3 separate regions of the Homo sapiens genome follow, and all the other regions are linked to region 1. Evidence: fine-mapped expression QTL. A gene starts in region 1. Each other region holds a variant in brackets. All regions are shown on one strand. Distances are between the middles of the regions. Region 1 holds the start of MCM6 (minichromosome maintenance complex component 6). Region 2 overlaps LCT (lactase). Region 3 overlaps LCT (lactase).

The links. PIP is the estimated chance that this variant, and not a neighbour inherited with it, causes the effect.
Region 2: its variant is fine-mapped to the expression of MCM6 in whole blood (INTERVAL, PIP above 0.99).
Region 3: its variant is fine-mapped to the expression of MCM6 in tibial nerve (GTEx, PIP above 0.99).

The regions. Positions count from the first base shown.
Region 1 is chr2:135,872,553-135,880,730 of GRCh38, reverse strand. MCM6 (minichromosome maintenance complex component 6) reads left to right here and starts at 4,288. Exons shown (of 17, transcript NM_005915.6): 1 at 4,288-4,472; 2 at 7,888-8,034. The coding sequence starts at 4,366. RefSeq lists enhancers at 4,014-4,073, 4,764-4,893, 4,663-5,198 and a silencer at 4,534-4,693.
Region 2 is chr2:135,821,802-135,829,979 of GRCh38, reverse strand. It overlaps LCT (lactase), which reads left to right. Exons shown (of 17, transcript NM_002299.4): 3 at 304-387; 4 at 5,977-6,079; 5 at 7,882-7,960. LCT-AS1 (LCT antisense RNA 1) reads right to left here. Exons shown (of 2, transcript NR_045486.1): 2 at 6,893-8,178. Among named protein-coding and RNA genes, the nearest start is that of LCT-AS1, 5.7 kb to the right of the region's middle. The variant TG/G (reference allele first, on the strand shown) is at 4,987.
Region 3 is chr2:135,793,496-135,801,673 of GRCh38, reverse strand. LCT (lactase) reads left to right here. Exons shown (of 17, transcript NM_002299.4): 12 at 865-1,067; 13 at 3,536-3,645; 14 at 6,899-7,033. Among named protein-coding and RNA genes, the nearest start is that of LCT-AS1, 23 kb to the left of the region's middle. RefSeq lists enhancers at 3,220-3,743, 3,744-4,265. The variant A/G (reference allele first, on the strand shown) is at 3,760.

The DNA of each region.
Region 1 (8,178 bases):
GCAATATTAGTTAATACTAACATACTAAAGTTGGTTCCTGAGTTGTAATAAATGTATTATAAGAGTGTAAGATATTCACAGTAAAGGAAAATAGGCAAGGTGTATTTGAAAATTCTGTACTATCTTTTGCAACTTTTGGTAAATCCAAAGCTATTCTAAAATAATTTTTTAAAAAGAATCATGGATGGCTGGGCATGGTGTCTCACACCTGTAATCCCAGTACTTTGGGAGGATTGCCCAAACCCAGGAGTTCAAGACTGACCTGGGTGACATGAGGAAATCTTGTCTCTTCAAAAAATATAAAAATTAGCCAGGCATGGTGGTGCACATCGTGGGAGGCTGACGTGGGAGGATCACTTGAGCCCAGGAGGTCATGGCTGCAGTGAGCCATGATTGTGTCACTGCACTCCAGCCTGGGTGACACAGCAAGACCCTGTCTCAAAAAAAAAAAAAAAAAAGGCCCCAGTGTGGTGGCTCACACCTGTGATCCCAGCACTTTGGGAGGCCAAGGCAAGAGGATCGCTTGAGCCCAGGAGTTCGAGGCCAGCCTGGGCAACACAGCCAAACCTCGTCTCTACAAAAAATACAAAAATTAGCCAGGCGTGGTGGCATGTACCTACTTGGAAGGCTGAGGCAGGAGGATCGCTTGATCCCAAGAAGTCGAGGCTGCAATGAGCCGTGATTGTGTCACTGCACTCCCGCCTGAGTGACACAGCAAGACCCTGTCTTTAAAAAAAAAAAAAAAAAAATTTTAGACTTCCAGGTATTCAGCATAAATCACATTGTACAGTTTAGGTACAATGAGCCATCATTATCAAGGGATAGTGTTATATCGATGTAGAGAATTATTTACCAGTCAAGTTCCCAATGCCAGCCAAAGGCCAATCTTGTGAACAGGACTTTCTAAGGATAGCAAGCAGGCCTGGGCACCAGTGCACACACATAGCATACAACTTTCTGGGGTGTGACAGAGATATTTCATAATTCATACCCTCCTCCTGTTGTGGAAGTTATCCCTACAAACCTCACTTACAGACATCATCTACTATTCTGATTCAGAGATACATGTCTGAAGGAGGAAGGGAACACCTGTGAGATATGGAGAGCTGAGAAGAGGAAGCCTTGAGTTTCTCAATGAGCATAGCTGAAAATCAGCCCGGAGCTCTGCACTATCATTTTTGTTTTTTTCCTTCTGTACATGGGACTTTAGTTCTGAGAAATCTATCCTGAGGATAGAAGAGGAAGAGAAGGGAGAAGAAGAAAAATGAGAAAGAAAAGAGTGAGGCCTTTTGAGAGGATGGAATAGAATCAGGTTAGCTCAATCGGGTTGTGAATATCCAGGAAGCACTGTTGAGTTCAAGCTTCCTAAAATATGTACAAGTGGTGATGTCCGGTAGGCAGGCAGACTCTAGAGCTGGTAAAGGGCTGTAGGACACAGAGCCTCAAGTGTTCATTTTCTTTTCTTTTCTACTTTTTTTGAGACAGAGTCTTGCTCTGTCGCCAAGGTTGGAGTGCAGTGGTGCGATCTCGGCTCACTGCAACCTCTGCCTCCTGGGTTCAAGCAATTCTCTGCCTCAGCCTCCTGAGTAGCTGGGACTACAGGCACCGACCACCACGCCCGGCTAATTTCTGTATTTTTAGTAGAGATGGGGTTTCACCATATTGGCCAGGCTGGTCTGGAGCTCCTGACCTCAAGTGATCCACCCACCTTGGCCTCCCAAAGTTCTAGGATTACAGGCATGAGCCACCGCGCCCGGCTGAGTGTTCATTTTCGGGTTTTTTTTTTTTTTTTTTTTTTTTTTTTGAGAAGGAGTCTCACTCTGTCGCCCAGGCTGGAGTGCAGTGGCACGATCTCGGCTCACTACAAGCTCCGCCTCCCAAGTTCAGGCCATTCTCCTGCCTCAGCTTTCCGAGTAGCTGGGACTACAGGCGCCCCCCACCATGCCTGGCTAATTTTTTTGTATTTTTAGTAGAGATGGGGTTTCGCCGTGTTAACCAGGATGGTCTTGATCTCCTGACCTCGTGATCCGCTCATCTCGGCCTCCCAAGGTGCTGGGATTACAGGCGTGAGCCACCGTGCCCGGCCGAGTGTTCATTTTCAAATGAGGTAATACATACGATTACAGATACACTGCAACACGCCAGCATTGAGCTTTTTTGTTAAACTCTGTAAATATCTTGTGAATAGTGTATTTGTACGTATGTTAAAATAATTACTTGAGCTTCTGTCCACTCTGTTTGGCATTTTAAAATCTTTTCAGGCCGGGCGCGGTAGCTCACGCCTGTAATCCTAGCACTTTGGGAGGCCGAGGTGGGCGAATTGCCTGAGCTCAGGAGTTTGAGACCAGCCTGGGCAACATGGTGAAACCCCGTCTATACTAACATACAAAAACAAAAAAACAAAAACAAAAAAAATCAGCCGGGCGTGGCGGTGTGCGCCTGTAGTCCCAGCTACTCAGGAGGCTGAGGCAGAAGAATTGCTTGAACCTGGGAGGCAGAGGCTGCAGTGATCCGAGATCCTGCCACTGCACTCCAGCCTAATGACAGAGCGAGACTCTGTCTCCAAAAAAAAAAGAAAGAAAGAAAGAAAGAAAAGAAAGAAAAAAAAGAAAAAGAAAAAATTTTTCAATAAGTTGGATTTGGTGGTGGCAGGAAATCCCAGCTACTCGGGAGGCGGATGCAGGCAGATTGCTGGAGACCAGGTGTTCAAGGTCAGCCTGCACAACATAGTAAGACCTCGTCTCAAAAAAAGAAAAGAAAGAAAAAATATTTTTAATATGCAACAAGCCTCAAAAAATGGAAGTGGTCCCCGTTTCTCTTAATGTCTTGGAGGCCAAAAAAAGGTACTGGTTGGTGAAATACACATATAGATATCATCAGTACCCAGATGTTAATTAACGCCAAGGGAGTGTAAAGGGTCGCCCAAGAGAGCGACTTTACGGGAAAAGAAGGCTCTGGAACCAGAACATTTAAAAGACTCACTGAAGGAGAGGCGCCTACAAAGGATGCTAATCAGGAATGGCCAAAGAGATGGCAGAAAAACCAAGTGAAATGGTTAGGGAAAGATGGGGGAAAAAAACATAAGGATAACTCAAGCCAATAGTGCATTTTAAGAAGGGTATTAAGGCCGGGCGCTGTGGCTCACGGCCGTAATCCCAGCGCTTTGGGAGGTCGAGGCAGACGGATCACCTGAGGTCAGGAGTTTGAGAGCAGCCTGGCCAACATGGCGAAAACCCTGTCTCTACTAAAAATACAAAAATTGGCTGGGCATGGTAGCGGGCGCCTACAATCCCAGCTATTCAGGAGGCTGAGGCAGGAGAATCCCCTGGACCCGGGAGCTGGAGGTTGCAGTGACCCGAGATCGCGCCACTGCTCTCGAGCCTGAGCGACTGGGTGAGACTTCATCTGAAAAAAAAAAGAAAAGAAAAAGAAAAAAAGATTAATCAAAGTGTCAAATATTTCTTTCTTTTTCTTTTTCTTTCTTTTTTTTTTTTTTTTTTTTGAGACGGAGTCACACTGTGTTGCCCAGGCTGGAGTGCAGTGACACGATCTCGGCCCACTGCAACCTCCTCCTCCCAGGTTCAAGCGATTCTCCTGCCTCGGCCACCCGAGTAGCTGGGATTACAGGCGTGCACCACCACGCCCGACTAATTTTTGTATTTTTAGGGGAGATGGGGTTTCTGCATGTTGGCCAGGGTGGTCTCGAACTCCTGACCTCAGGTGATCCACACGCCTCGGCCTCCCAAAGTGCTAGGATTACAGGTTGTGAGCCACCGCGCCCGGCCAATGTCAAATATTTCGCTGATTTTCCTCGGTCAGCACCACCACAATAATTGTGCCACCTTACCCATGCAAGGTTTAGACATCTCTTTGACTCTTTTACAGGGTTTTATACTGTGGTTTCCATTATTTCCTCTAACTAGACAGCAGAAGCGGCTTACTCATTTTTCTCTTCCATAGAGTCTTACTCCGATCGTTCAATTAATATCAGTGGAATGATTTAAAGAACATTTGAAAAACCACTCGGACAAAACCCTCAGATTCGAACTTGTTCCAGCAGCCAAAAATACCCGCGGGCCACGGCTACACTGCGCAGGCGCAAAGGCAGATGGGCTTTCTCCAGAAGGGCTTTGCATTTGGCGCGAAATCCCTTTCCGTGGGCTGGGGCTCTTGGAGAGGCGCCGTTCATTGGTCAGGTTTGGCGCGAAATCTCCAGCTCCTGTGTCACGATTGGTTCCGGCCGTGCAGGTCGGAAGAGGGGGCGGGGCGGAAGCGGCGGCGGCGCGCGCAAAGCTGCAGCGTCTGGAAAAAAGCGACTTGTGGCGGTCGAGCGTGGCGCAGGCGAATCCTCGGCACTAAGCAAATATGGACCTCGCGGCGGCAGCGGAGCCGGGCGCCGGCAGCCAGCACCTGGAGGTCCGCGACGAGGTGGCCGAGAAGTGCCAGAAACTGTTCCTGGACTTCTTGGAGGAGTAAGTCGGCGAGCGCCCCGGGCCTCGCCCGCCTCCGGAGCCTGCGGCGTCTGGGCCAGGCGGTGCCGTGTGGGCGGCGGGTGTTCCGGAACCTGGGGGTCGCGCGTCCGGGAAGCGCCTCCCCGCCCGCCCCCCAACTTTAGGCTCCGAGCCCGGCGGCCGCGAGGAGCCTGGGACAGGCTGGGTTTTTCTGGAGTAAAACCCATCTCGAGCCCTAAGACGCTCGTGCCCAGTGCTCAGCGCTTTGCTTCTGTCACTTGATGCTCACCACCCCGCGAGCCTGGTATTTGCACAGCCCTCGGTGACCGGCGCGGAAACCTGGGCTCGCTGAGTATAGTAACTGGGCCGCTGGGTGCGGCCAGGTCGAGTGGGAGGCCGAAGTGCCATTGAATCTCGTCGGTGCCCTGCTGGGCCACGCAGCCGGGAGCATGGTGCTGGGGGTTCGCAGGGCACGGGCCACCCTCGCCTCTTGTGCTGATGAAAGTTTCTGCGTCAACTGTGGTTTGAAAGCTGCTGGGGGGCGGAGCCCTGCCCTGCAGAGAGTAGCTCACCATATCCCTTCTTCTGGGTCCCTTGCTCCCCTTTCCCTCTGGCCTTCCTTTCCTTTCTCTACTCTTCTTTTTTTCTGTGCCTCTGGGCTCCTAGCTTCATAACCCCAACCTCCTCCCTGGCTTGCCTCACCCACCGGTTATTTTTCCTGGAGCAGATACACCACGGCCTCCAGGATGAAGGGTCAGCAGTTTGGAATGGCTTTTGAAGTTCTTTTTTAGTAAAATATACATAACAAAGTTGACCATTTTAGCCATTTTTAAGTGTAGAGTCCAGTGGCACTAAGTGCATTCACCTCGTTGTGCAGCCGTCACCACTCTCCCATCTCCAAACTTTTTTTTTTTTGAGGCGTAATTTAGCCCTTGTTGCCCAGGCCGGAGTGCAGTGTCACCATCTCAGCTCACCGCAACCTCCGTCTCCCGGGTTCAAGCTATTCTCCTGCCTCAGCCTCCCTACTAGCTGGAATTACAGGCATGCGCCACCACGCCCGGCTAATTTGGTATTTTAGTAGAGATGGGGTTTCTCCATGTTGGTCAGGCTGGTCTTGAACTCCCGACCTCAGGTGATCCCCCCGCCTGGGCTTCCCAAAGTGATTACAGGCGTGAGCCACCGTGTCCGGCTCCAAACTCTTTTCATCTTCCAAACTGACATTCTGTGCCCATTAAACACGAACTCTCCTCCGTTACCCTCTCCCTCAGCCACCGTCACCCACCACTCTGCTTCCTTTCATTATGAGTTTGACCACTCTAGGTACCTCATATAAGTGGAAGCGTGTAGTATTTGTCCTTTTGTGTCTGGCTTGTGTAACATAATGTCTACAAGGTTCCTCTGCGAGGTAGCATGTGTCAGAATTTCCTTACTTTTTAAGGCTAAATAACATTGTCTGTACACATTGAGTATCCCTTTTCTGAAACGCTTGGGACCAGAAGAGTTTGGGATCTTGGATTTTTTTTTCAGATTTGGAATGTTTACATTATACTTAACCAATTGCATCCCTAATTTGAAATGCTCCAGTGAAAATCATGTCAGCACTCAAAAAGTTTCAGATTTTGGACCATTTCATATTTTAAATTTTCAGATGAGGGCTGCTCAACCTGTATATATACTGCATTTTGCTTATCCATTCAGTGGACACAGGTTCATTCCACCTTTTGTCTATTGTGAATAATGAGGTTCATTCCACCTTTTGGCTATTGTGAATAATGCTGCCTTCTTAGGAAATTTTGGTATACTTAAAACCATAATTTAATTTCCATTTCACTACCTATGGCAATGTTATTGTCTGCCTGATAGTTCCTCCTTCAAAGCCCAGCTAAAAACTCACACCTTTGTGAAACCTTGTACACCTTTTTGAGAGGCACTAATCCTTTCTTCCTTAGGCTCCCAGGGTGCTGTTTGTTTTTCATTATCTCTGGCAGTGTAACACATTTACCTCCTAGCTACTTAGTCTGGAATTCAAATTCCATCCTCAACCCCACCTACCCACCACATCACATTACAAAGGTTTTTCAATAAACGTTTCATTTCAACAAATAATCTAAGTGCCTTGACTTTGCAGCTAGATGATAATGATGAGACAAATAATCTCTGTGCTTTGTTTAAAGAAATGCCAACTCCCTGTCACAAAATAAACTTTAATTCACCATTGCTTGTGGAATAAAGTTCAAATTCTTCATCACTCCTCTTTCCTGTTTGTCTTACAAAAACACCCCAGTCATCATCCACACTTCTCCCCTACCTTCTCTGACTTAATCACATTCTTGGAATCATCTAGTCAGTCACTTCACCACCTGTTTTTATTTGAAATTTTTAACTCTTTCAGAAGCTGAATTCCAACGCCACCTTTTATATGTATAACTTGTAGTTGTTTTTTTAGGCAGAATTAGTTTCTATTCCCCTAGCACATTTCTTGTTCTTCTCATTAACAGGAACATCTTTCTTGTCTGTCTTCATTGCTTACATGTCTAACTCCCTAGACGCAGACAAAGTGTTAGTTAACCCTAGGGCAGGAACAACACTGCCATTTTCAGCCTCAGGTACCTCTGTTATAGGGCTTTGCACGTAGTTGTTTAACAAATATTTTAAGGAGTCAGAACATGCTGTATATGGAGGAGAAATTGATTTTTTCTTAAGGCGAATCTGCATATTATGTTTGAAAGAACAGAAATAAATTTGTATGATATCCTGCTTGGGCTTTAGAAGCAAAAATACCAGCAGCTTTATTTAGTGTGCCTGTTTCAATTTTCCCGAAGTCTTGGGCTGTGAAACACCTCATTTCCATGTATTCTTATTTCTGTTCTGCTTCTTAAATCCCTGACTAATTTGTTAGTTTGCAAATTCCCTACAGAAATGGAATCATTGGGTTTGAGACTGAATTTCTTGATTTAACATTTTCCAATCTTAATTATACATGACAGTAGTAAAAGAAGAGTTAGTTGTTGGGTTTTTTTGTTAGTTAGCAGTTAAACCTCACAATCATGGTGGAAGGCAAGGAGGAGCAAGTCACTGATGTCTTACGTGGATGGCATCAGGCAAAGAGAGCTTGTGCAGAGGAACTCCTCTTTTTAAAACCATCAGATCTCGTGAGACTTACTATCAGAGAACAGCAGGGGAAAGACTTGTCCCCATGCTTCAATTAACTCCCACCAGGTGCCTCCCACAACATGTGGAAATTCAAGTCGAGATTTGGGTGGGGACACAGCCAAACCATATCAGAAGGGAGGAGTAACTTGCCCCAAGTTACAGAACTGCCAAACATGGGCCTGTCTGAGCCTAGTTGTTGGACTTTAACCAATGTTCTGAATTATCATTCAGGTTCTTTGTACTGCCTGTGTCCTTAATCTAGTTGACTCGAATGTACCTGCAGGTTTCAGAGCAGCGATGGAGAAATTAAATACTTGCAATTAGCAGAGGAACTGATTCGTCCTGAGAGAAACACATTGGTTGTGAGTTTTGTGGACCTGGAACAATTTAACCAGCAACTTTCCACCACCATTCAAGAGGAGTTCTATAGGTATGGGCATATTAATCTTCTTTACTTTGAATAGGGGTTGAAATCCGGGAAGCCAGCTCTTCTTGGACTGTAAGTGTTCACTTGTGTAGCAGAAGGTCAGCTTTCACAGTTATTTCCCACTGAGAAGAGGCGCTTTGATACTGC
Region 2 (8,178 bases), 51 kb after region 1:
TTCACGCATTCATTTAGCCATCAACACTGCGTGCTTTCTGTGTGCTGAGCACAGAGGCGCATGGATGAGCACATAGGTGATGCATTCCCAACAACATACAGGCACAGGCACCCCCCGCCCCCTACACACACACACACACACACACACACTTTCTCATTCCATCTCCATCTTTTCCTTTGGAAAATCCTGCTTTGGAATATTTGGTTTAGTGATAAGGGGAGAAACAAAAAAGCGTACTTCTGAGAGGCTGTTAGTCTTGACAGTGCTTAGGTTCTAATGACCCTATTTAACTACTATTTTCAGGACACGGTCGATTTCCTCTCTCTTGATTTGTCTTATGAATGCCAAAATGAGGCAAGTCTGCGGCAGAAGCTGAGTAAATTGCAGGTAATTTGAGCCCTTTTCCACATTAATGATGAATGCAGCGAAGGTTTCAGAGAGCAGATTAGACATTTAATGCTTTGGCTACTGCATAAACTGAACTTCCATCAACAGCAGAGACCGGCTGAGTTGTGTCTGGGGAGATTTCCATTGCAAGCATCCCTAGAGAACATCGGATGTTAGGCAGTCTTTCCTAGAAGGGATACAAGGGTTAGCTTGTTAAGGTGAATATTTACATAGATCCTCTGCTTGCTTGTGTAGAAATCTGCCGAGAATTGAGATTCTGGGGTTCATTCTGAGTTTTAAAAAGGCAACTCATCAATGGGGGTGATGGTTCCATAACGATAAGCGTCCACTTAACACCACTGAACTATACATTTAATGGTTATGATGGTAATTTTTTTTTTTGAGATGGAGTCTTCCTCGGTTGCCCAGGCTGGGGTGCAGTGGCGTGATCTTGGCTCACTGCAGCCTCCACCTCCCGGGTTCAAGCGATTCTCCTGCCTCAGCCTCTCCAGTAGCTGAGATGACAGGAACACACAAACACGCCTGGCTAATTTTTGTATTTTTGGTAGAGGCAAGGATTCACCATGTTGGTCACGTTGGTCTCAAACTCCTGACCTAAAGTGATCCGCCCACCTTGGCCTCCCAAAGTGTTGGGATTACAGGCGTGAGCCACCACACCTGGCCTGTAAATTTCTTCTTTATGTCTATTTTACCACATTTTTAAAAAAACAAACATTTCACACCCAGGTCTACTAAATCAGATCCCAGCTGTCTGGACCTTCCAGTAAGCTCAGTACTCCCTCCTGTACCCAGTACTGCTTTTCTCAAGTCTAATGATGCGGGCTCATTAGAGAAAGTGTGTTAGGAGCCTCCTATCCAACTACCAGGTTTCTCTCTTAGGCTTGGTCACTGCTGTGTGACTTACTTGCTTCATTCCCTGGAGTCCCAACTATTCTCCTGTGACAAGGTCTATCTGATGGTGCCCACGTTTTCTCCTGCACCTTCCGAGTGCTGGCAGTATTCCTATAACCCTGGAGAGCTGCCTTCCTGTGGGCCTTTCCAAGGATGTCTGGCCACTGGTATGCACCCACATTGGACCCCCTGCCTCTTCAGGTTTGGGCACAAAACCACTCCCCGCTGCTTTCAGCCTGTGCCTCCCATGAGGGAGGCAGAGCAGCCCCCTACACTCACCTGTGGTTTTGAATCCCACCATCTCCGTCACCAAGGAGGATGGTTTACCTGAGGAATTATCCCTTTAAAGGCCAAGTTTGGCTAGGCACAGTGGCTCATGCCTGTAATCCCAGCACTTTGGGAGGCCGAGGTGGGTGGATCATGAGATCAAGAGATTAAGACCATCCTGGCCAACATGGCAAAAACCCATCTCTACTAAAAATACAAAAATTAGATGGGTGTGGTGGCACGCACCTGTAGTCTCAGCTACTTGGGAGGTGGAGGCAGGAGAATCACTTGAACCTGGGAGGCGGAGGTTGCAGCGAGCCAAGATTTCGCCACTGCACTCCAGCCTGGTGACAGAGCGAGACTCCATCTCAAAAATAAAAATAAAAATAAAAGGCCAAGCTCAGGAATGTCAAACTGAGCTTCAGCTACATGGACCCTCCATTTTACCTGAGGCAGAGTGCTTGAAATGGACAAATTAGCACCAGTCCTATCCCAATGTCTGTGTGTTTCTAGCTGTCTGTGTAGTAGACACTGCTGCTTTTGTTATCTACAAATAATAAGATGATCTAATTTAGGGGTCCCCAGCCCCCAGGCGGAGCACCAGTACTGGTCCATGGCCTGTTAGGAACCTGGCTGCACAGCAGGAGGTGAGTGGCAGGCGAGCAAGCATTACCACCTGAGTTCCACCTCCTGTCAGATCAGCGACCATATTAGATAGGAGCACAAACCCTATTGTGAACTGCGCATGCGAGGGATCCAGGTTGCGTGCTCCTTATGAGAATCAAATGCCTGATAATCTGAGGTGGAACAATTTCATCCCCAAATCATCCCCATCATCCCCCCTACCTCCCCCAAGTCTGTGGAAAAATTGTCTTCCACGAAACCGGTCCCTGGTGCCAAGAATGTTGGGGACCACTGATCTAATCAAAGGTGACAGATGCAGCCACAAAGACATCTGAGTAACAGCTATTTTAGTGCTTGCTTATCCCAGACACCTGGGAGGCACTTCATTCTCACATCATCTCAACCTCTCAAAACACACCCTAAGGTTTAAACAATTTAACCAAGGTGGTGAGCTCCAGGGTTGGGATTTGAACTAGGGCTTTCTCATTCTAAGACACCACACTGTCTTTTCAAAAGAAAAATAAGTCTCACATCTGTAATCCCAGCACTTTGGGAGGTTGAGGCAGGCGGATCACTTGAGGCCAGGAGTTCAAGACCAGCCTGCCCAACATGGCGAAACCCCGTCTCTACTAAAAATACAAAAATTAACCAAGTATAGTGGCACGAACCTGTAATCCCAGCTCCTTGGGAGGCTGAGGCACAACAATCGCTTGAACCCGGGAGGTGGAGGTTGCAGTGAGCCGAGATGGCGCCACTGCACTCCAGCCCAGGGGACAGAGAGAGACTTGTCTCAAAAAAAAATAAAGAAAAAGAAAAAGAAGTCCAAGGGTTTGGAACATGATAATGAGGGTGGTATTTTTTAAATCACATATGATCAGTTTCAGTTGTTTTTGTGAATGCCTCACCTGAACCTAAACTTGCTTGCTGCCCAGGGCCTGTGCTTGCGGGCTGGCTGACAAGGTTTCTGGGCCTTACGTAACACTCTAGGGTCTTCGAGGTCTGCTTGTGCCTGTGATGACTAAAGCTGCCTTTTGTCCTCCTCATGGAATTAAACCAGAGCTTGTTGCTAGGCTAATGGGTTCAGACAAAGCTGCCATTTTAAAACCATCTCTGTTGTGCGGAGGTGGCGTGCCTCTGACAGGCAGCAGAGGCACTGCATGGCTGGTACTTGAGGATGTGATTTTCAGTCTCTTCCCTTTTTCCATCACAACATTTTTTTTTTAAGATGGAGTCTCGCTCTGTCACCCAGGCTGGAGTGCCCCGTGGCATGATCTCGGCTCACTGCAACCTGCACCTCTGGGGTTCAAGCGATTCTCCTGCCTCAGCCTCCCAAGTAGCTGGGACTACAGGTGCCCGCCACCATGCCTAGCTTTTTTTTTTTTTTTTTGTATTTGTAGCAGATACAGTGTTTCACCATGTTGGCTAGGCTGGTCTCGAACTCCTGGCCTCAAGTGATCCACCACCCCCCTCGACCTCCTAAAGTGCTGAGATTACAGGCATGAGCCACTGCACCTGGCTACCACATTTTCAAGACACTTCTACCAGTGTCTGGGTAAAGCACTGAAACTTCAGTCTGTAGCTGGCCAGCCAAATAGTAAAACTCTCCCTGGACAAACTTAGCAGCCATTTATAAATGTTCTGCAATGGTTATCTATTCCTTTTACTTCCTTGGGTAGGGTTGGCCCCTCAGAGGCAGCCTCAAAGATTCGGAAATGACAGCTGACAACCCCTGAGCTGGAGAGCACACTGTTCCTTCCTGGGATTGTGGTCTCATGCCTGGTAGCATTTCCCATGCACAGTTACCACACCCAGGACAGGGAGAACAGCTGAGCCTGCCCTGAGAACAGGGGCTGAGTTGTGTCCACAGGAGCCTGAATCGTGCTGCCCACCTTCCCAGTGTCCCCTCCCTCCCTGTCCTGGAACCCCACCCTCCCCTTGAAGGGGCCTCTTCCTGTGGGCTGCGAGGGAAGAGGGCGAAAGCAGGGCAGGGAGGAGCAGGCACCTGCCCCCATTCCCACCCTCTCCCCGGAGCACCTGCACAGCCCTCTCTGAGCCTCAGGGGCCCTCAGCGGCCACTCCCCAACGGCACACAGCTGTCTGAGGGCCTGAGAACAGCCTCAAGCCCAGAAATGAAGAGCTGCGGCACACTCCAGGGTTCTCGGTTCTGCAGGAGGCACACGAGGAGGTCCCCCATCCACTTATCAGAAAAAGCTGTGCTCCCAGGGAGTTCTCCGCTTGGCAGAAGACAGGCTGGGGGCCTCCGAGGCTCCTCTAGCTCTCCAGCCCTGGGACATCACCGGCTGCCTCATGGCATATCCGTCTTTCAGGAAGGAGAAAACCCTTGCTTCCCTAAGCACGCCACCCTGGGTCATTTGTCCCCACTGCATTGACCCAGCACAGGGAGGGATGAGGACTGTGTGGAGTCACAGCTCCACTAACTGCGCAGTCATGGGCAACCCGCTCGGCCTCTCGAGCTTCTGACTCCCCATCTGTAAAGAAAGTCACAGGTGGCTATGAGAAAGTAAAGACTATGCCTGGCTCCTTTTAAAGTGGTTACTATTGGTATCTTTTGGTAGCTTTTAGTTGCTCAGAGGAGGAAAAAGTTACTGTGAGTAAAATGACCAAACTCCAAGCCCCGCAAAAAAGGTAATTTAAAGTGAAGTCAAACAGCATGTCAGCCCTGAGACGTTTTCCTTGATACTGAAATGGCTAGAAATAAGAAGAGGAAATTACATTTGCTTCCATTTTAATGATAACAGCTAATATAACTTTTCTTTTTCTTTTTTTTTTTTTTTT[TG/G]AGATGGAGCCTGGCTCTTGTTGCCCAGACTGAAGTGCAGCGGTTCACTGCAACCTCTGCCTCTTGAGTTCGAGCGATTCTCCTGTCTCAGCCTCCCAAGTAGCTGATATTACAGGCGTGCACCACCAAGCCCAGCTAATTTTTGTATTTTTGATAAAGACAGGGTTTCACCATGTTGATCAGGCTGGTCTCAAACTCCTGACCTCAGGTGATCCGCCCGCCTCAACTTCCCAAAGTGCTGGGATTATAGGCGTGAGCCACCACACCCGCTGGGCTGCTGTAACTTTTTGTTTTGGAAAATTTCTAACATCCAAAAGTAAAAAGAATGATGAACCCCTACGAAGCCATCTCCAGCTGCAAGAGCTATTATTGGCTCATAGCTAATCTTCTTTCACCTAACCTATAACTTCTATCTCCCAAACTAGATTTTTAATTAAAAAAAATTTTTTTTAGAGACAGGATCTTGCTCTGTCACCCAGGCTGGAGTGCAGTGGTGCAATCATAGCTCACTGCAGCCTTAAACTCCTGGGCTCAAGCGATCCTCCTGGCTCAGCCTCCCAAGTAGCTGGAACTACAGGCATGCACCACCACACCCAGCTAACCAAACTGGATTATTTTGAAGCAAATCCCAGACATCCATAGATGGTGGCCTCTTAACTAAGCTTCTTAAGTAGCACAGGCTCTGGATGTGAGCAGTGGCCTTGTTCCTGATCCTAACACCGTGCCTGGCTCTAAGAGGTGCCCTGTAAGCCTGTGATGAAAGAAGAGGTGAAGGTGGGGGTTGGTGGGGAGGGTAGACTATGTTATTGAAAATTGTAGATCTTTCTCCTTCAGAGTCTAGAGTTGACTCCTTTAATTAACTGAGATACTTAGAGGTCATTTCCAAAGCCAGAGTAAGTGCCACAGCTTCTCATCTTGAAACTCTGTCCCTGTTATCAAGATGCTTTCCAGGAGGCTTCAGTTCACTTGCTGGTCCTTCTCTTTTTCAGACCATTGAGCCAAAAGTGAAAGTTTTCATCTTCAACCTAAAACTCCCAGACTGCCCCTCCACCATGAAGAACCCAGCCAGTCTGCTCTTCAGCCTTTTTGAAGGTGAGTGGGCCATTGCTGAAGAGGTTTTGAGTGACATCTGGTGCACTGGTGTGCTAGGTAGCAGTCTTGAAAGTCCGGGGTTCCAATGGGAGGAGGAGCATGGGAGGAAGACTAGTATAAAAGCCCACCCCAGACTGGGTTAGTGTACTATGCCTTCCTACTGATGGTCCCTTGCAACCATCCCCCATTGACCCAAGAAAGAGGAGAGGTTCGACACAAGGATGCCTCTTATGGACATAAAGATAGTTAGGCCTCAGCTGTGAGTTGTAAGCATGGAAAATCATCTTTGCCTCCTTTTATTACCTCTCCCTCCAAGGTCTCTCATCTCTGCTCCTCTTGGCAGGGCTTTCCTCTGCCCGTCTCTCTCCAGCCAGCCCTCTCCACTTACCCTTGTTCCATGTCCCCATTATCTCAGTTTGCACATGGCCCTGGTGGGTACCTGACCAAGATGCTAAGAACTTTCAAGTGTAGGACTCACAGCTCAAGGGCCATCTTCCTAGTGTCTCTTAGTTCAAATTCTTGAAAGTGAATCTGATTGTTGGCCATGGATCAGGAGGCTGCTTCTGGTCCAATCAAGTCAGGGGAAAGGTGGGGTCTATGATAGCATTGAGGCTGGCAGTCACTGGAGACTCTGCAAGAAGGGAGGAAGGGGCAGAGAGGAATGTGCCTGAGGGCCCTGATATTCACTCTTGTCTGTCTGTCACTCTTGTCCATAGGCCAGAGTATGGGAGAAGTCAGTAGTGTTCTTTCTACCACTGTGTCTTAGTCTGTCTTGTGTTGCTATAATAGAATACTCTAGACTGCGTAATTTATAGAGAAAAAAGGTTTATTTAGCTCATGGTTCTGGGGACTGGGAAGTTCAAGATCAGGCAGCCACATCTGGTCAGCTTCTGGTGAGGGCCTCATGCTGCATCCTAACCTGGCAGAGAAGTGGAAGGGGAAGGAAGTGCCTGCAAACAGATAAAACACCAGAAGCAGCCTCACTTTATAACAACCACTGTATGGTAACTAATCCAGTCCCACTAGAATGGGAACTCACTCACTCCCTGGAGACTGCACTAATCCCTGAAGGCGGATCCCTCATGACCCAAATGCCTCTTAAAAGTCCATAACCTCTCAATAATGTTACACTGGCAATTAAATTTCAACATGAGTTTTTGTAGGGACAAACCACATCCAAACCATAGCACACCTGGACCCCATCCCAGCAATGGGTTGGCTCCACAGGGCCCCTGAAGTTTATCCATAGATACCATTTAATAATGCTTATCTGAACTCACCTTTGATGGCATAACAATTTCTGTTCTTAGATCCCACCTCTCTCTAAGTGGTTAAAATTGTACCTTTTCTGTTTATGCGTATTTTACCACAATTTTAAAAATATTCCACCCCTTTCTGATCTTTGAGTTCTTCTAAATCAATTGTTCCCAAAGTTGTGGTCCCCAGACCAGCAGCATCAACATTAGCATCACCTGGGAGCTCATTAGAAATGCATATTCTTGAGCCCTACTTGAGACCTACTGCATCAGACACTCTTGGGGTGGGACCAGCAACCTGTGTTTTAACAAGCTCTACAGATGATTTTGATTCACCTTGAAGTTTGAGAACCACTTTTAAGTAATAAGTAAGTAGAATTCACTTCTAAGCTTTTAAAGTCGTTAGCCCATGGTATTTTCCAAAGGGGCTTGGAACCACTGCTTGGAGTTTGGGTGTGTCGTATGAGCGAGGAAAACTGTTGATTTCAGACTTGCATGTTCTTAGTTGGCATTTACATAGAGTTAATTCAATTTCTTCTCTTACAGCCATAAATAAAGACCAAGTGCTCACCATTGGGTTTGATATTAATGAGTTTCTGAGTTGTTCATCAAGTTCCAAGAAAAGGTAATGTCAGGTTGCCTATTGAACTATCAATAACTGATATTTGTAGAATACTCTGTTTCTTTTACATGTATAATCTTATAGGACTGTTGTCATCAACTCTTGGGCCACCAAGTTGTTTATTGCCATTCAATTGATGAGAAACAAAGACTCAGAAAGAAAGTAGGGAGTCTCTTACTGAGTGGGACTCACGAGGTTCTGCTTTCTCATCTGTCAGTTCG
Region 3 (8,178 bases), 79 kb after region 1:
TGAACCCCTCGGCTCACTGCAGTCTCCACCTCCTGGATTCGAGTGATTCTCCTGCCTCAGCCTCCTGAGTAGCTGGGATTACAGGCGCCTGCCACCACAGCTGGCTAATTTTTTGTATTTTTAGTAGAGACAGGTTTCACCATATTGGGCAAGTTGGTCTCAAACTCCTGACCTCAGGTGATCCACCTGCCTCAGCCTCCCAAAGTGCTGGGATTATGGGTGTGAGCCACCCTGCCTGGCCTGGGTTGTCTTTTAAGTTTTAAAAAATCATTTGTACATATAGTCCTTTCTGAATATAACATTGGTTTGAAGCTAACTCAATAGAAAGAAATTCCATCTCTTTAGTCTCTCTAGTTTGACTATAGTAGCTAACAGAGCTGGGCTGCAATGTCACACTTCACCTTTAGGTGCCACCATCTGATTTGATTTGCTCCAGCCTAAGCATTTCTTAAATTGGGGGCTTTAGATTCTGCGATAGGTATCTCTATTATGGGTATTTTGCCTGAGACGTACGAGCCACTCTTCTGGAGGAGGGGAACAGAAGCCAACATTTATCAAGTGGCCTTCCCTCTTCCAGACACAGTGCTGCTGTGGGCGGGTTTCATACACTGTTTCATTTCCCTCTCACAAGCACTCTCTGCTGCCCATTTCACCAAGGAGGAAACTGAAAGGCTGAATTACTCACCCAAAGTTACACAGCCAGGTAATAAGAGGGAGAGCCAGGGTTTGAATTCCAGTTTTCCTAGTGTCAGAATCTACACCCCTTCTCCCAAACACAGAGGGGACATCTGCAGGCAGGGACTAACAATCTCAGTCACATCCATTCTATCCATTCTCTGTTGACATCCATGTGTATGTTTCCAGGAGTCTCCAATAGGCCTGGCACTGCCCCCTACATTGTTGGCCACAATCTAATAAAGGCTCATGCTGAGGCCTGGCATCTGTACAACGATGTGTACCGCGCCAGTCAAGGTGGCGTGATTTCCATCACCATCAGCAGTGACTGGGCTGAACCCAGAGATCCCTCTAACCAGGAGGATGTGGAGGCAGCCAGGAGATATGTTCAGGTCTGTTTTTCCTCTGGGCGCTTGTTCTTACTCTTGTCCATCTTTCCTTCCAGCCTAATGGAAACAGATTGTGAATCAAAGATTTAGGGTGTGGTGGCTCATGTCTATAATCCCAGCACTTTGGAAGTCTGAGGCAGGAGGATTTCTTGAGGCTAGGAGTTTGAGACTAGCCTGGGCAACATAGAAAGACCTTGTCTGTGAAGAAAAAAAAATTATTAGGGCATGGTGACACACACCTATAGTCCCAGCTGCTCAGGAGGCTAAGGTGGGAGCTTGAGTCCAGGAGGTCAAGGTTGCAGTGAGCCATGATTTCGGCACCATTAAACTCCAGGTGACAGAGGGAGACCACCCCCAACCCCCAAAAAGAAGAATTATTAGGATCTAAGCCTAGTTTTGCTATTGCCTGATTTTGTGAGCTTGGGAAAATCATCTAACTTTTTCGTACCTTAGTTTCCTCAACTTCAAACTGGAGATGTCCTGCCCACCTCAAAAGTTTGCTGTGATGAAAGTGATAAAGTCTGTGGGGTTAAGTTGTCTTTAAGTTTTTAAAAATCATTTGTACAGGTAATTCTTTCTGTAACATTGGTTTGAAGTTAACTCCTAGAGAGAAATTTCCATTTCTTCAGTCTCTCTGGTTTGACTATAGTAGCTAACAGAGCTGGGCTGCAGTGTCACACGTCACCTTTAGGTGTCACCATCTAATTTGATTTGCTCCAGCCTAGGCATTTCTTAAATTGGGGGCTTTAGATTCTGTGAAACTCATTAGTGCCCCTAATTTGCCAACTCAATGAGTTTAAGAACAGCATCTTTCAGTCATGGAATTTCACCCAAGGAAGTAGAGACATTACTAGGAAGCCGACTGGGCAAGGTGGCTCACGCCTGTAATCCCAGCACTTTGGGAGGCTAAGGCAGGCTGATAACCTGAGGTCAGGAGTTCTAGACCAGCCTGGCCAACATGGTGAGACCCCATCTCTACTAAAAATATAAAAATTACCGAGGTGTGGTGGCACATGCCTGTAGTTCCAACTACTCTGGAGGCTAAGGCAGGAGAACCCAGAAGCTGAGATCACCATTGCACTACAGCCTGAGCAATGGAGAGAGACTCCATCTCCAAAAAAAAAAAAAAAGGAAGCAGGTGCCAGCATGGCCTACCTTTATTTCCACCTGAACCCCTGACTGACAAGAGGAGAGAAGGAAAAGAATGATCCTCGTTCACGGCACAGCTCCTCTGGCTCCTCCTAGAAAGGGATAGAAGGTGCTCTCTCCTACATTTTGCATCAGGAAGGAAAGGCAAGGGTTTCTCTCTGGATTGGTTCCCACTTTGGGCTCCGTGGAAGAGTCTGCCAACTGTGGCACTATAACTCTCTCGGGGGAAACACCATGGGCCTTGGTTTGCCAAACTCTTCACAAGAGAACTTGACAAAGATAGTCAAATTAATAAATGCAACGAAGGGCTTAATTTTCTGGTCTGCTAGCCAGCTGGGGAAACAGTTTTGAAACAAAATTAATGTATCCCTCATTTCAGACTCACAGAACTGGTGATTTAGAACAACATTTCCTTTTTTCCTGAAATCAAAACTTCAAACGTCAGGAAACGTTAGGCTGTCATATCATTAGATTGAGCCACTTACTGGTGAACTGTGATACTGCAGCCATGGACTATGACAGATGCATCTCTTATTAGAATCAGCTTCCACGAAAATATCTAGTGTGTTACCTTGGAGTGGGTGCATTTAAGCCTCTTTACCAGGGCATGTGTGTTCCATGCCTCATCTCTGACCATGAGTGGAAGCTGCCCTCACCCCACATTCCCAGCAGCAGCCAGTGGGTGAGGAGAGGATTTGGAGAGACTACAGAAGGCTCTCAAACCCCCAGCATCATAGTGTTTGGGTGCCACGTATCCCCGCACATGATAAGGATGGCCTAGGCCTCATTAGAGAAAATAGGTCAAACGGTTCCCCACTCTGGGGCTGTGAAAGCCCATTAAGAGTTATACTTTGCCCGGAAAGTCAGGAAAGCCTTGCATTTCAGCCCTCCCCAGAAAGTTCTGTTTGCTCCTTGGGCACTTTGATGAGGAAGTGCAGCCGCTCAGTGGTGAGAAAGAGAACCGGGAGCCTGGAGGCTTGTGGGTTCTCCCTTCTCCTCTGCAGGACCCATCCAAGGGCAGCCAGGAAGCATTTGTTGAGCACCAGGGCCAGTGCCCAGGTCAGTTACTGTCACCTCAAGCTACAACTATGAAGAGGTGGCCCTGTCCTCAGTGCAACAGCAACTGAGCAAGCACAGACCCAGCTGGGAGACCTGTGGACACTGAAGCTGCAACAGGCAGGAGCCACAGGGAAGAGAGCTTAACCTGGGGGTCCAGGAAAAGGAGGGAGGTTGTGAGGCCAGGCACTTCTGAGCGGGGACGATGCTGTCTCTTGCTGTGCCCACCTGTAACGCCTGGGCTGTCTCCCCCACCCTACCCGCAGTTCATGGGAGGCTGGTTTGCACATCCTATTTTCAAGAATGGAGATTACAATGAGGTGATGAAGACGCGGATCCGTGACAGGAGCTTGGCTGCAGGCCTCAACAAGTCTCGGTAAGGGCCTGGTGCCCGCAGTGGTGAGGGCATGGGCGTCGGGGTCACAGAGGCATGTCTCGGGCAAGTTACCATGACTGAGCTTCTTTGCTTGCTGGGAAGTTACATGTGATC[A/G]TATATGTAAAGCTTAGCCCAGCACCTGGCACTGCTATATGCTTGACAGAGGGGTTTGCTATTATGGTTATTATATTGTGGAACAGCCAGGAAATCTGTTCCAAGGCTATCCACCTCTGAGCAACCCCACTATGCCACTCCACAGACAAATCCCAGCTCATCCTATCCTATTTCATCACCGCACGTGTGAATGTGGGTGGCAGTGGCTGACAGTCAGGCGTGTGCTTTGCATCACTTGGCCAGCAGGTGGCGATGGTCTGCACCAAAGCGTCCTTCCTTACCCGCCCGCCCCTTCTTGTCAAGGAAGGAGTAGCAACATTAGCAGCCAACGTTTACCCATCTTCTGTTGGTATCTTTATTTCTATTTAAATACGAGTAAAGTGAGGCGCAAAGATTAGGGCAAGATCACCCAGCTATTAAGAGATAGAGCTGAGATTTGCAGCCAAGCTGTCGGCCCCCAGGGCGCATGCTGGGGGCTTGAGAATCATGCAGGTGGGGTGAGAGGTGTGGTGTGAGGAAGCGCAGGAAGCGGCAGTCACTGCCCACGGGAACATGCCCACCGCTCCAAGGCTGGCGGGAATCAAGTGTGAATTCCCAACATAGTCTTTGAGTCCTGCCCCTAGACGCCCCCATATAGTCCAGCTGAGGATTAAAAATCCAGCTCCCAGGCCGGGTGCGGTGGCTCACACCTGTAATCCCAGCACTTTGGGAGGCCAAGGTGGGCGGATCACTTGAAGTCATGAGTTCAAGACCAGGCTGGCCAACATGGCGAAACCCTGTCTCTACTAAAAATACAAAAATTAGCTGGGTGCGGTGGCGGGGGCCTGTAATCCCAGCTACTTGGGAGGCTGAGGCCAGAGAATTGCTTGAGCTCGGGAGGCAGAGGTTGCAGTGAGCCGAGATCATGCCACTGCACTCCAGCCTGGACGATGGAGCAAGACTCTTTGTCTCAAAAAAAAAAAAAAAAAAAAAATCCAGCTCCCACCTCACAATGCACACCCTGGCCTAGTTAGGGTAAGTTCCCCAGAGCAGGCTGTGCCTAAAGGTCTGATCTGCGAACTGTGATCTCCAGCAAAACCGATGAGCGCCCGGCCCATCTGCACAACTTTGCCGAGCACCTACCATTTGCCCGAGCCAGGGCCAGGGGGAGGGGTCCATGGAAGGAGAGGATTCCATTCGGCTCCTCAAGCTGCTGACAGATCAGCTGGAAAGACAGTTCTCCATCCCATTCCCCAGGCTCTTCAGTACAAAGAAAACTCAGAAGATGAGATCAGGGTAGGCTGGGTAGACCCAGGAGATTTCATGGACAAGGCAGGACATCAGCTGAGCTGGGCCTTGACAGGGGATAGAATGTGGGGGATTGCAGGTCATTCTTTCCACGGGGCAGAGTTGTGAAGACAGGCCTAGAGGTAAGAATGAGTGGGGGTGCCAGAGCTGAGAGTGGGGAGACCAGCCCAGCAGCAGTGAAGGGGCTGAGGCCACATGGTGGAGGGCCTGGAAGCCAAGCACAGGGCCTTGGCTTTGGTGCCACAGGCCATTGCTGGCTTCTGAGCAGAAGCGTCAGGGACAGGAGGAGGCTGTGCTTTGGTTTTCTCCCATCATCTCAGAAACCCCAGGGAAGGAAGGTTCTTGATCCCTCAGGTTAATGGTAGCAGAAAGGTCAAGATGAAAGTGTCAGAGGCCTCAGCAGGGCATCTCTGGGCCACACCTAAACCAGAAGCCCCAGGTCTCCCTGTGGGCATGCGCATGCATTCAGGATCACCTGTACATGCTGCACACAAGTGTATTAGTCAGGTTCTACAGGAGAGGCTTTTCACTCAGAGTGCCTGGAAAATGCTCCATCTACAGGTTAAGAAGCCAAAGTTCCCAGGCTCACAAGTAATCTCAGCACTTTGGGAGGCTGAGGCAGGAGGATTGCTTGAGACCAGGAGTTCAAGACCAGCCTGGGCAATATAGTGAGACTTTGTCTTTACAAAAAATTTAAAAATTATCTAGGCATGGTGACGCACACCTATATTCCCAACTACTTGGGAGGCTGAGGTGAGAGGATTGCTTGAGCCCAGGAGACTGAGGTTGCAGTGAGCTATGATTGCACCACTGCACTCCAGCCTCAGGGGGCGTGCAGTGTCCTCAGGAGGACAGGGCGAGACCCTGTCTGGGAAAAAAAAAAGGAAGAAAGAAAACAAAGTTCAGTGAAATCGTGAGAACTGAGAAATTCAAACTCAAATACTCAATTTGCAAATTATTTCCCCTGCTACTTTGAAGATCTTGAAGCTATTATTATTATTATTATTATTATTATTATTATTAGAGTTGGAGAAAAGAGGCATGCCTAAACAAACCCCAAGAGGAGCAGAGAAACTTGGAAAGGGCAGAAAACGGAAATACAAATTACACAAGATACAGGGCCGGGTGTGGTGGCTCATGCCTGTAATCCCAACACTTTAGGAGGCTGAGGTGGGCGGATCACTTGAGGTCAGGAGTTCAAGACCAGCCTGGCCAACATGGTGAAACCCCATCTCTACCAAAAATATAAAAAATCAGCCAGGAGTTGTGGCAGGCGCTTGTAGTCCCAGCTACTTGGGAGGCTGAGGCAGGAGAATCACTTGAACCCAGGAGGCGGAGGTTGCAGTGAGCTGAGATCGCGCCACTGCACTCCAGCCTAGGTGACAGAGCCAGACTCAGCCACAAAAAAAAAAAATTATACAAGATCTAACTTTACAAACATAGGGGAAGAGTCTCAGATATGTACCTCAGGCATGCTCTTGATTTTGAAATCTGTCATAGATGCTAAATATCAGAATTTGCATATGTTGTTTGAAGGAAATTAAAAACTGTTTATGCATGTGTGTGTGTGTGTGTGTGTGTGCGCGCGCGCGCGTGGGTGCGTGTGTGTGTGGTCCTTCAGGTTTCAGAGGCTCTTGTAGAGACCTAGGGAAGCCAGGTTTATGGTCTGGCTGGAGGAGCCGCAGTGCTTCCTGCACCGCCTGAAGGACCTCTTCTCCTTCCCTGCCAGTTTCCCCTACTCACTGCCAAGTGCCTGGGGTTCGGAGAGCTCCCCCGCCCCAGCCCTATGACGTTCTCTTCTCAAAGCATGGCTCTCCCTGAAGCCCTGCCCTCAATGGCTTCTTCCACCCAGGCTGCCAGAATTTACAGAGAGTGAGAAGAGGAGGATCAACGGCACCTATGACTTTTTTGGGTTCAATCACTACACCACTGTCCTCGCCTACAACCTCAACTATGCCACTGCCATCTCTTCTTTTGATGCAGACAGGTAAGTCCACCAACAGGGAGCCCGGAGCCATCTCTGGAAAAGGCAGAAAGGTGCCCTTGGCTGTGCTCTCTGAGGCCTGCCCAGCCTCAAAACAGGGCCTCCAACGCCGAATGTGCCGGGGTTTGCAAGATGCTCGCCACCCCACAGATCCCAAGGAAATCTCCAGCAAGCAAGAGGGAGAGAAGGCCGGGGTCTCCAGGGCACCTCCCATTAGGGCACATGTGCTTGGCTTTTTGTTTTTTTATTTCATTTTTAAAATTTATTTATTTTGCGTTCTTTTTCACAGGCTGCTTAACTCTAAAAATGCTTGGTTGTTAAAAAGGATTTTCAAGAAAAAAATTGTTTAGGTTTTATCAAAATTCGCTTTAATATTAATAAATATTACAATAATACAAGAGTAAAATTTTATTTTCTCTTTTTAAACAATGCTTTTATGAAGTAGAGATAGTAAAAGATTTTGGTTCACCTTTTAAGTAACAGTTTTTATTTTATTTATTTTTTTTGAGACAGAGTCTCGCTCTGTCACCAGGCTGGAGTGCAGTGGCACAATCTTGGCTCACTGCAACCTCCACCACCCGGGTTCCAGTGATTCCCCTGCCTCAGCCTCCAAGTAGCTGGGATTACAGGCGCGTACCTCCACGCCTGGCTAATTTTTTTTTTTTTTTTTTTGTATTTTAGCAGAGACGGGGTTTCATCATGTTGGCCAGAATGGTCTCGGCTAATTTTGTGTTTTTAGTAGAGACAGGGTTTCTCCATGTTGGTCAGGCTGGTCTCTATCTCCTGACCTCAGATGATCCCCTTGCCTTGGCCTCCCAAAGTGCTGGGATTACAGGTGTGAGCCACTGCGCCCAGCCGATTGTCTTTTTCTTTATGATATCTATTTATCTAGAGACTTTTTCATCCATATCCTGTATTGTTTTTTAAATTTCTCTAAGTTAATTTTCACCTTTCTCTAGTACCTCCTTGAGTAGTTTAATAATCAACCTTCTGAATTCTTTATCTGGCAATTCAGAGATTTCTTCTTGGTTTGGATCCATAGCTGGAGAGTTAGTGCGACCTTTTGGGGGTCTTATAGAACCTTGTTTTGTCATATTACCAGAATTAACATTTCTGGTTCCTTCTCATTCAGGTAGACTGTTTCAGTG